2 linked regions of the Homo sapiens genome follow. The protein of the gene in region 2 interacts with the protein of the main gene of each other region in a pairwise test. Each region holds a gene or a part of one and is shown on either strand. Other genes may lie near its edges.

Region 1 (3,500 bases), on a different chromosome or scaffold from region 2:
CTGCATAAGTACTCACTGCAGTCACTCCAGCCCTGCTTCATGCCTTCCAAAAACCATATGACAACAGGCAGAGATTTCCATGATCTGGAAAGGGCAGCCTGAACCCTAGACTCACCACCTGCAGGTCCAGCCTGTACCTGGCCATCCTGAAGTTGGAGATAACTATTTCTATGGACAACTCCAGCAGTGGCCAAAAAGCCAGGCCTGTGAAAAATAAAGTCCTTTCTGGCCACCAGCAGGAAACCAGCCAATCTCCATCACCTTCTGCAGATTTTTTTTTTCTACTTTTATTTATTATGAGCATTTCTTACATGGTCATTTTTCTGAATCTCTCCTTACAATTTCTCTGGCAGTATGAATTTTCAGGACCACCTTAGAGTTAAAATATATGAGTAGAGGCCAAGAAGGTATTTGAATTTAGAGTTCATTGAGTCCCATTGTATTAGTTGGCTATAGCTCCTATAACAAAGTACCACAGAGTTGGTGGCTTAAACAACAGAAATTTATTTATTTATTGTCTTGCAGTTCTGGAAGCTACAAGCCTAAGATCAAGGCATCTGTAGGGCTGATTTCTTCTGAAGGTTCTCCCTATGGCTTGTAGATGGCATTCTTCTCCCTCTGTCTTCACACAGTCTTCTCTCTATGTATTTCTGTGTCCTAATCTCCCTTCTTATAAACACACCAGCTGCACTGGATTAGGGCCTACCCTTGTGACTGCATTTTATCTCAATTACCTCTTTAAAGACCCTGTCTCCAATACAGTGACATTGTGAGGGGGTTAAAACTTCAGCATATGAATTTGGGAAAACACAATTCAGACAATAACATCCATGATGAAAGAGTTTATTTCCCTCAGTTGGGATCCTTGTATGTATGAATTCATGGCCATAATGATTGTTTTTACCTTCTCCAGCAAGAGAGCAGAGCCTGACTTTCTGGGAGATACAGATCTCTGTCATTTAAAAATTCTGTGATGAATGTAGTTGGTAACCAAATTGAACTCAAAAAATATAAAGGCTCTGAAAACAAATGCAGAACCCATTAAGTTATGCAGTGAATAAAGGGAAAATGTAAAATAATTTTCCTGATTTTGTGAAAACTATATTTCAGATAATCTGGGAGAAGTTTGATTTAAAATTGTCTCCGTCATAAACATTCTGAGTTTGTTTTTCTTGTCAGGATACAGTTCCAATTAAGAGTGTGGAATATATGGTCATCATACAACTGTCTTTGCTGGTTTCTTTTGCTATGTTATTTATTTGGGTTAGGAGACTGTACCAATCCCCTCATCTATGCAGAGGACTTCAATTTGCACTCACAGGCTGCCTGCTTCAAAGTATTTTTAAAGTATTTTTGTGACTCTCAGTGTAGGGGAGTTTTTCAGTCACTTTCTTAAGGTAATTCACCTAATATTTCCTTCTGGAAAATGTGGGTTTTCCAGATCTTACCTGAGTCCATCAATCCATTAAAATTGTGGTATAATGGCAAGGACTTACCTTGAGGTTTGGGCTTGGTCAGTTTGCCACAGGGCTTGGAGATGGTGACAGTCTTCTGGCATTCGGCATTGTGCAGGGCTCGCTTCAGACTTCCAGTTCTGGTCTTCAGGGCTGTGTTCAGGTCACATTCTCCCCAGGCCTGGAACTGGTATTTGCACTCCGCTAAAGGCAGGGTAGAACCAAACAGAAATCCTTGAAAGATCCTATCGTACTTCCAGGATAATAAAGGCACACTTTTGTTTGTAACTTTTTTATTGAAATAATTATAGATCCATATGCAGCTATAAGAAATAATACAGAGTGTATGCGTGTGTATTGATTTCTGTTCAATTCTATCACATGTGTAGATGCATACGATCACCATCAATATACACCATTAATACACACTAATATACACTATTAATATACAGTCCCAATACAACAGTGGGTCATTCTTTATAGTCATGGCCTAGCCACCTTCCTCCTTCCCCACCTCCTTAATCCCCGGCAACTCCTTATCTGTTCTCTAGCTCTATCATTTTTCTAGCTTAAAAATGTTGCATAAATGGAATTCTACAATATGTAAACTTCTGAGATTGGCTTTTTTATTTAGCATAATTTCCTGAAGATCCATCCAAGTCATGTGCATCAATAGTCTGTTTCTTCCTATTGCTGAGTAGTATTCCATGGTCCCAATGTACCCCAGTTTGTTTAACCATTCATCAGCTGAAGGACATCCGAGTTGTTACCAGCCTTGGGTTACTACAAATAGAACTGCTATATAAATTCATGTATAGGTTTTTGTGGAAACATCAGTTTTCATTTCTCTGAGATAAATTACCAAGAAACTGCTGTGTTACATGGTAAATGCATGTTTCATTTCGTAAAAAACTGCAATACTCTTTTTCCACTGTGGCTGTACCACCTTACAATTTCCACTGGCAACATATGAGGGATCTGGTTTCTTGGCACCCTCACTAGCATTTCGTCTTGTCACTATTTTTTATTCTAGCCACTTTGATAGATGTAGAGTGATATCTCATTATGGTTTCAATTTCTAGTTCCCTAATAAGGAAAAGATGCTGAATATATTTTCAGGAGTTCATTTGTTGCCTATATATCCTCTTTGGTAAAATGTCTGTTAATGTTTTTTCCCCACTTTCTTATTGAACTGTTAGGTTTTGTTTGTTTTGTTTTTTGTTGTTGTTGTTTTGTTGTTTACTGTTGAGTTTGAGAGTTATTTAATATTCTCAATGTAAGTCTTTAAGATATACCTTTTAAACTTTTTGTAAGTGGGTTTTTAAGGTGCCCATATACAATTTAAGACCAAATGTACCTGTTCTCCATCACACTTTTATAGAACTTGTCTATATCCATTCAAATAAAAAATACCCCAAAGATTACAGAGGGAGAAAAAGACATACATGTATACATCCATTATCCTTCCTCACTTGTCTATGGGCCACAATGCATTTCCATAGAACACAGATAGGACATTTCAGGCATCATGTCCCACTATGGCTAAGAAAGACAAAAAGTCTGGATTGTGGAAGAGGTTATTTGAGGGTTCAATACTGGATATAAAGTTGAAAGTGTTGAGAGATCCTGTCTCAGATAGATAGATCAGGCCAGCATAAGACTGACTCCAGTCAGTGGGAGAAAGATTTATGAAACGTGGCTGTGAGCAGCCCTGCTGAACTCAGTAAGTGAATCTGTGAAACTGTGTGGAGGTTGGGGAGGGATCAAATGGGAGAGAAGGTCTGAAAGTGACAGGGAGAAACATGGAGAAGCAGGAGAATAAATAAGAAAAGGGGAAAGGAAAAATCAAAGGAACTTAGAAATAGAAGAAAGGAGAGAGAAGACAGATCAATTAACATTATTCAGAGGAATCAAGGATATATTTTATGTCCCTTTGGAAAGGCAGTGGTTCCCAACCAGGGATGATTTTGACCAACAGGGTACATTTGGCCATAGATATTTGGAGACATTTTTAGTTTTCACATCTGGAGCGGGTGAGGAATGCTA
Region 2 (5,729 bases):
GTCTTTGGAGTCTTGGGACAAGTGCTGTTTGGTTTGTTGAGTTTGTTGTACTTGGCTGGAATTCAGTATTTTTACTTTCATGTATGTGTTTCTTTTTTTTTGTTTTTTTTGAGACGGAGTCTCGCTCTGTTGCCCAGGCCGGAGTGCAGTGGCGTGATCCCGGCTCACTGCAAGCTCCGCCTCCCGGGTTCAGGCCATTCCCCTGCCTCAGCCTCCCGAGTAGCTGGGACTGCAGGCGCCCGCCACGACGCCCAGCTAATTTTTTGTATTTTCAGTAGAGACGGGGTTTCACCGTGTTAGCCAGGATGGTCTTGATCTCCTGACCTCGTGATCCACCCGTCTCGGCCTCCCAAAGTGCTGGGATTACAGGCGTGAGCCACCGTGCCCGGCCAACTTTTATGTATATGTTTCTAAATTAGATCAGACTGTAGTTTTTATTTTTGTAATGGATTGAATTAGGAAGCTTTGTGTTTTTTTGGTGTGTTCTAGAATGGTTTATATTTTCTTCTCAAATATTTGTCAGAAGTATCTGGGTCTAGTGGAGTTTTTTAGAGTGATTTTTTAAGACACTCTTTAAAAAAATTATTTAATATAGATCTATTCAGTTTTCCCACCCCTTCTAGATTCAGTTTTGGATATTACCATTCTTATTTTAAATAGTTTCCTTTTTTTTTTTCTTTTTTTGAGATAGGCTCTCACTGTGTCGCCCAGGCTGGAGTGCAGTGGCACCATCTCAGCCCACTGCAACCTCCGCCTGCCAGGTTCAAGTAATTGTCCTGGCTCAGTCTCCTGAGTAGCTGGGATTACAGGTGCCCGCCACCATGGCCAGCTAATTTTTGTATTTTTAATAGAGGTAAGGTTTTCACCATGTTGGTCAGGCTGGTTTCCAACTCCTGACCTCAGGTGATCCACTCGTCTCAGCCTCCCAAAGTGCTGGGATTACAGGCGTGAGCCACCGCGCCTGACCAGTTTCCCACTCCGTTATGATGGGGAGACCAACAACACTGGTCAATTGAATATTGAAAACATTTTGCGTACAGAACTAAACCCATCTTCTAATGAAAAATTAGTGTATTTGTGAAGAAAAGGTCATTGCATATTAGGCATGTAGATAACATTTCAAACTTTAGAGAGTGCCATTATATCTGTTGTGTATTGAGGTTCCTTTTTTTTTTTTTTTTTTTTTTGAGACAGAGTCTCGCTCTGTCGCCCAGGCTGGAGTGCAGTGGCGTGATCTCGGCTCACTGCAAGCGCCGCCTCCTGGGTTCACGCCATTCTCCTGCCTCAGCCTCCAGAGTAGCTGGGGCAACAGGCCTCTGCCACAACGCCCAGTTAATGCTTTTGTATTTTTAGTAGAGACAGGGTTTCACCGTGTTAGCTAGGATAGTCTAGATCTCCTGACCTTGTTATCTGCCCCCCTCAGCCTCCCACCTCGGCCTCCCAAAGTGCTGGGATTACAGCTGTGAGCCACTCTGCCCGGCCGAGTTCCCTATTTTCTTGGGAAGAACTTTATTGAAATGTAGTTGACATACTGTGCAATTCACCCATTTCACATGTACAGTTAAGTGATTTTGTATATATTCAGAGTTGTACAACCGTCACTACAGTCAGTTTTTGTTTTTGTTTTTGTTTTTTTGAGATAGAGTTTCCCTCTTGTTGCCCAGACTGGAGTGCAATGGCGCCATCTCGGCTCACTGCAACCTCCGCCTCCTGGGTTCAAGCAATTCTTCTGCCTCAGCCTCCCGAGTAGTTGGGATTACAGGCACCCGCCTCCACACCCAGCTAATTTTTCTGTTTTTTATTAGACACGGGGTTTCACCATGTTGGCCAGGCTGGTCTCGAACAGCTGACCTCAGGTGATCCGTTCGCCTCAGCCTCCCAAATTGCTGGGATTACAGGCGTGAGCCACCGCGCCGGCCTAGTCAGTTTTAAAATATTTTCATCACTCCAGAAAGCAACCTTATGTGTAACGTTTAGTTTATATAATATGTGGTGTTTTGTGTCTGGCATCTTTTACTTAACATAATGTTTTTAAGATTCATCCATGTTGTAGCACATAGGGTTCATTCCTTTGTATCACAGAGATTCATGCCTTTTTATGGTTACTATACCACATTTTGTTTTGTTTTTGTATAGCTGTACATATGTACCACATACGTATAGATAACGCTATACAGCATTTCATTTTTCCATTTATCACTTGATGGGCATTTGTGTTGTTTCTGCCTTTTGGCTATATGAATAATGCTGTTAAGAACAAGTACAAGTTTTTGTGTAGACATATCGTTACATTTCTCTTGGGTATATATCTAGCAATGGAATTGCTGGGTCATATGGTAACTTTTTGAGGAACTGCCAAATTAGCTTCCAAAGTAGCTGCACAATTTTATATTCCTGCTAACAGTGTATGAGGATTCCAGTTTCTCTACATTATTACATTGTAAACTGTTAGAACAAGTGCTGATTCTTTTACTTTTTCAGTCTAATTATCATAGTGTTCATTAAAACTGACCCATTTTAAAACTGCTTTGTAAACAACTATCTGACCTCTGTGGTCAGGGAAGATTTTCCAGAGGAAATGACTGTTGAATTGTCTGAAGTATCTGAATTTGTTAATCTTGTGAATATAGTGTGATAGATAAAGGAGGGAGGAAAGACTGTCATAGGAAAATGGTATGCAAAAGCCCTGCTTCTATGAGCTGAAGGAAGGAGAATAGGTTACAGTCGAGTAATTCAAAGAAGATTGTGTCCTAAACACAAAGAATGAGCATGAAGGCCAGGTAGGCCATATTACCTTAGGAGCAATGGGAATTCATTGAAGAGTTTTAAACAAGAAGGATGAGTACGTATACATTTTATAAAATCCATTCTGCTAACAGTGTACAAAACAAAGAGACCTCAGATTAGATGCAGGGAGTCCCATTAAATGGCTATTGGTGTAACCCAGGCAAAAAATTGTGGTAGTTTGGAACAGAATTATGGCAGTAGATTTGGAGAGACTGGATAGAGTTGGGAGACAGAAAGTAAAATGGACAGAAATATCTTAAATTACTGAAATTACTTGGTTACTTTGATTATGATTATAAAGTTTTAAAAATGATGATAGCTCCTGGTACGTATGTTACTTTTCTGTATAATATTTGTGATTTGTAACATCTTTACTTCAATTTATTTATATGAATTTAAGTACAGTGATAATGCATACATAGAGCTTTTGGGTGAATGGCCTTTTAGGGGAAAATCCTAATTCTTCAAAAGTCTAAAATTTTAAGAAATTATTCAATATTTACTATACTTTTGTTTGTGTATCCTAAATATCTCTTCCCTTATAGCTACTCCTTGAGTTAATTGCAGTGTGGAGAGAAAAATCAAGTAATATTAAACAGATATTCTCTCCTATGGTTTTGATAAATAATTATGCAAAGAATTTGGGAATTTTTGATGAAGAAGAATTTATTAAATGAAAACGTATGATGTCATGTACGTATTCTTTATATTTTAAGTAGTATTGTTTAATGGTTCTTTATTCTTTTAACTTTAGGAAACTAAATATATTTTGCCAACTTTGGAAAAAGAATTATTCTTGGCAGAGCACAGTGACCTTGAAGAAGGTGGACTGGACCTGACTGTGTCATTGAAACCAGTTAGTTTCTATATATCAGACAAAAAAGAAATGCTTCAGCAGTGCTTCTGTATTATAGGAGAGAAAAAGTTACAGAAGATGCTTCCTGATGTGTTAAAGGTACTTCATTACACATCAGACTAGATACATATGTAGAAATACAGCCTTCTTTGTAGCAATTTTTTGTTTTACTTAATGCGGTTTTGTTTGTTTGTTTTTTTGAGACGGAGTCTTGCTCTGTCGCCCAGGCTGGAGTGTGGTGGCGTGATCTTGGCTCACTGCAACCTCCGCCTCCCGGGTTCAAGCAATTCTCTTGCCTCAGCCTCCTGAGTAGCTGGGACTACAGGCATGAACCACCATGCCCGGCTAATTTTTGGATTTTTAAGAGACGGGGTTTCACCGTGTTGGCCAGGCTGGTCTCGAACTCCTGACCTCGTGATCTGCCCACCTTGGCCTCCCAAGGTGTTGGAATTACAGGTGTGAGCCACCGTGCCTGGCGTTAATGCAGTTTTTAATTGGATGTTTACATCTAAAATAAGCTACTTGAAAAGATTTTGTAAAATAGAGAACCATAATATATTTGGTTCTTGGAGCCTTGTATATTTAAAAATTTGCCACGAAGAAATGTTTAGGCAAGAAATGTGTTGACTCTGTGGAGATAATTCTGTTAAATGCAGGGAATGATAGTAACTAAATTGGACATACAATCTTTATGGTGCTTTAAGAAATAATGTCACAATATGCTGCTGTGTAACAACAAACAGCAATGGTTAATAATAGCTTATATTTCATTAGATTCACAAGTATTTTTATTTATTTTTGAAAATTATTTAGGGAAATATTTGTTGTTTTAATTTTACAGTTGTAGAAATTGGCCTTGGTCACTAAAGTTAAGCCTGAGATCATATATCTAAAGATACAAGACTTGAATATTTAAACCTTTAGAATAATTACTTAACATAAATAGACTGCTTAAGAATAGCTGGGAAACTGACTCACTCTTTAGTTTTTTTCTTTGATAGTAAATACAAGTTTATGCATTCCCTTCAAATATGCAGTGTTCACATATTAACTGGCAGTTTTTCAGATTTCATCCCAGGAAAAGATGTATGTGAATCTACTTGAGGCTTTAATTTATTTTATTGTAAGATTTTGCTAACTTAAATTTTTATGATTGAAATTTTCCAGTTTACATTGGGGCTGTGTTACATAAATGCATTTTTTTAAAATGTCATTTCCTTTAGAACTGTTCAATAGAAGAAATTAAAAAACTATGCCAGGAACAGTTAGAGCTCCTGTCTGAAAAAAAAATTTTGAAGATTCTTGAGGGTAAGAATACATATTTTTACATTCTGGCAACTTCTTAGTTAATACTATATTCAGCATAAATCCTGAGGTATTCTTTCTCCTACTTGGATATTTAATTTCATTATTGGGTTGTTGTTGAAGAGTATTTTTACTTCTATTTGCACTAAAAAATATAGTTTACATATCAGAAAAGCGTTTCAAGAATAGACAATATATTGTTTTTCCAGGTCAAGTGTATATAGGTAAGAGTATAACTAATAAAATGAAATAAAAAATGTTTACCAAAAATCTGTAAAAAAATTAATTATTGGAAAGGCAAAGATTTCCCTTAAAATCTTTTTAATTTTCTGCTTTAGATTTTTTATAGTGTTTAGTCACCTATTGCATATTGTTTACTCTCTAATAAGACCCAGATATAGAGTTAGAATACTTCCATGCAATTTACCAATATTTGTTTGTCTGCCTGTAGTGTGACTACTCTTGGTGATACTCACACCTCTAGAATTTTGGATTATCAGGCATTTTTTTTTTCTTTTGGGACTTTGCAAGGATTTTAGCTTTAACATGACAGAAGAAGAAACAAAAATTGGAGCCTTTCAGTTTCCAGTGATAGCTTCATTTTTAAATGTAAAATTGATGGCATTTTGTAACTCTGGAAATAGATATATACATATGTACATAGTGTGTAAGTGTATATACACACATTGTTGTCTGTATACATTTATATAATAGAGAAAAAGAAGTCAATGAGGCCGGGCGCGATGGCTCACGCCTGTAATCCCAGCACTTTGGGAGGCTG

The links.
Region 1: the proteins of CAAP1 (region 2) and PTN interact in a two-hybrid assay, tested with the Homo sapiens proteins (one large-scale study listed by BioGRID and IntAct).

What each region holds. Positions count from the first base shown.
Region 1 is NC_000007.14:137,249,734-137,253,233, forward strand, and holds part of PTN (pleiotrophin isoform 1 precursor), read right to left. Parts: intron 1,659-3,500; coding exon 1,497-1,658; intron 1-1,496.
Region 2 is NC_000009.12:26,885,326-26,891,054, reverse strand, and holds part of CAAP1 (caspase activity and apoptosis inhibitor 1), read left to right. Parts: intron 1-3,541; coding exon 3,542-3,742; intron 3,743-4,866; coding exon 4,867-4,951; intron 4,952-5,729. UniProt on the Homo sapiens protein: Anti-apoptotic protein that modulates a caspase-10 dependent mitochondrial caspase-3/9 feedback amplification loop.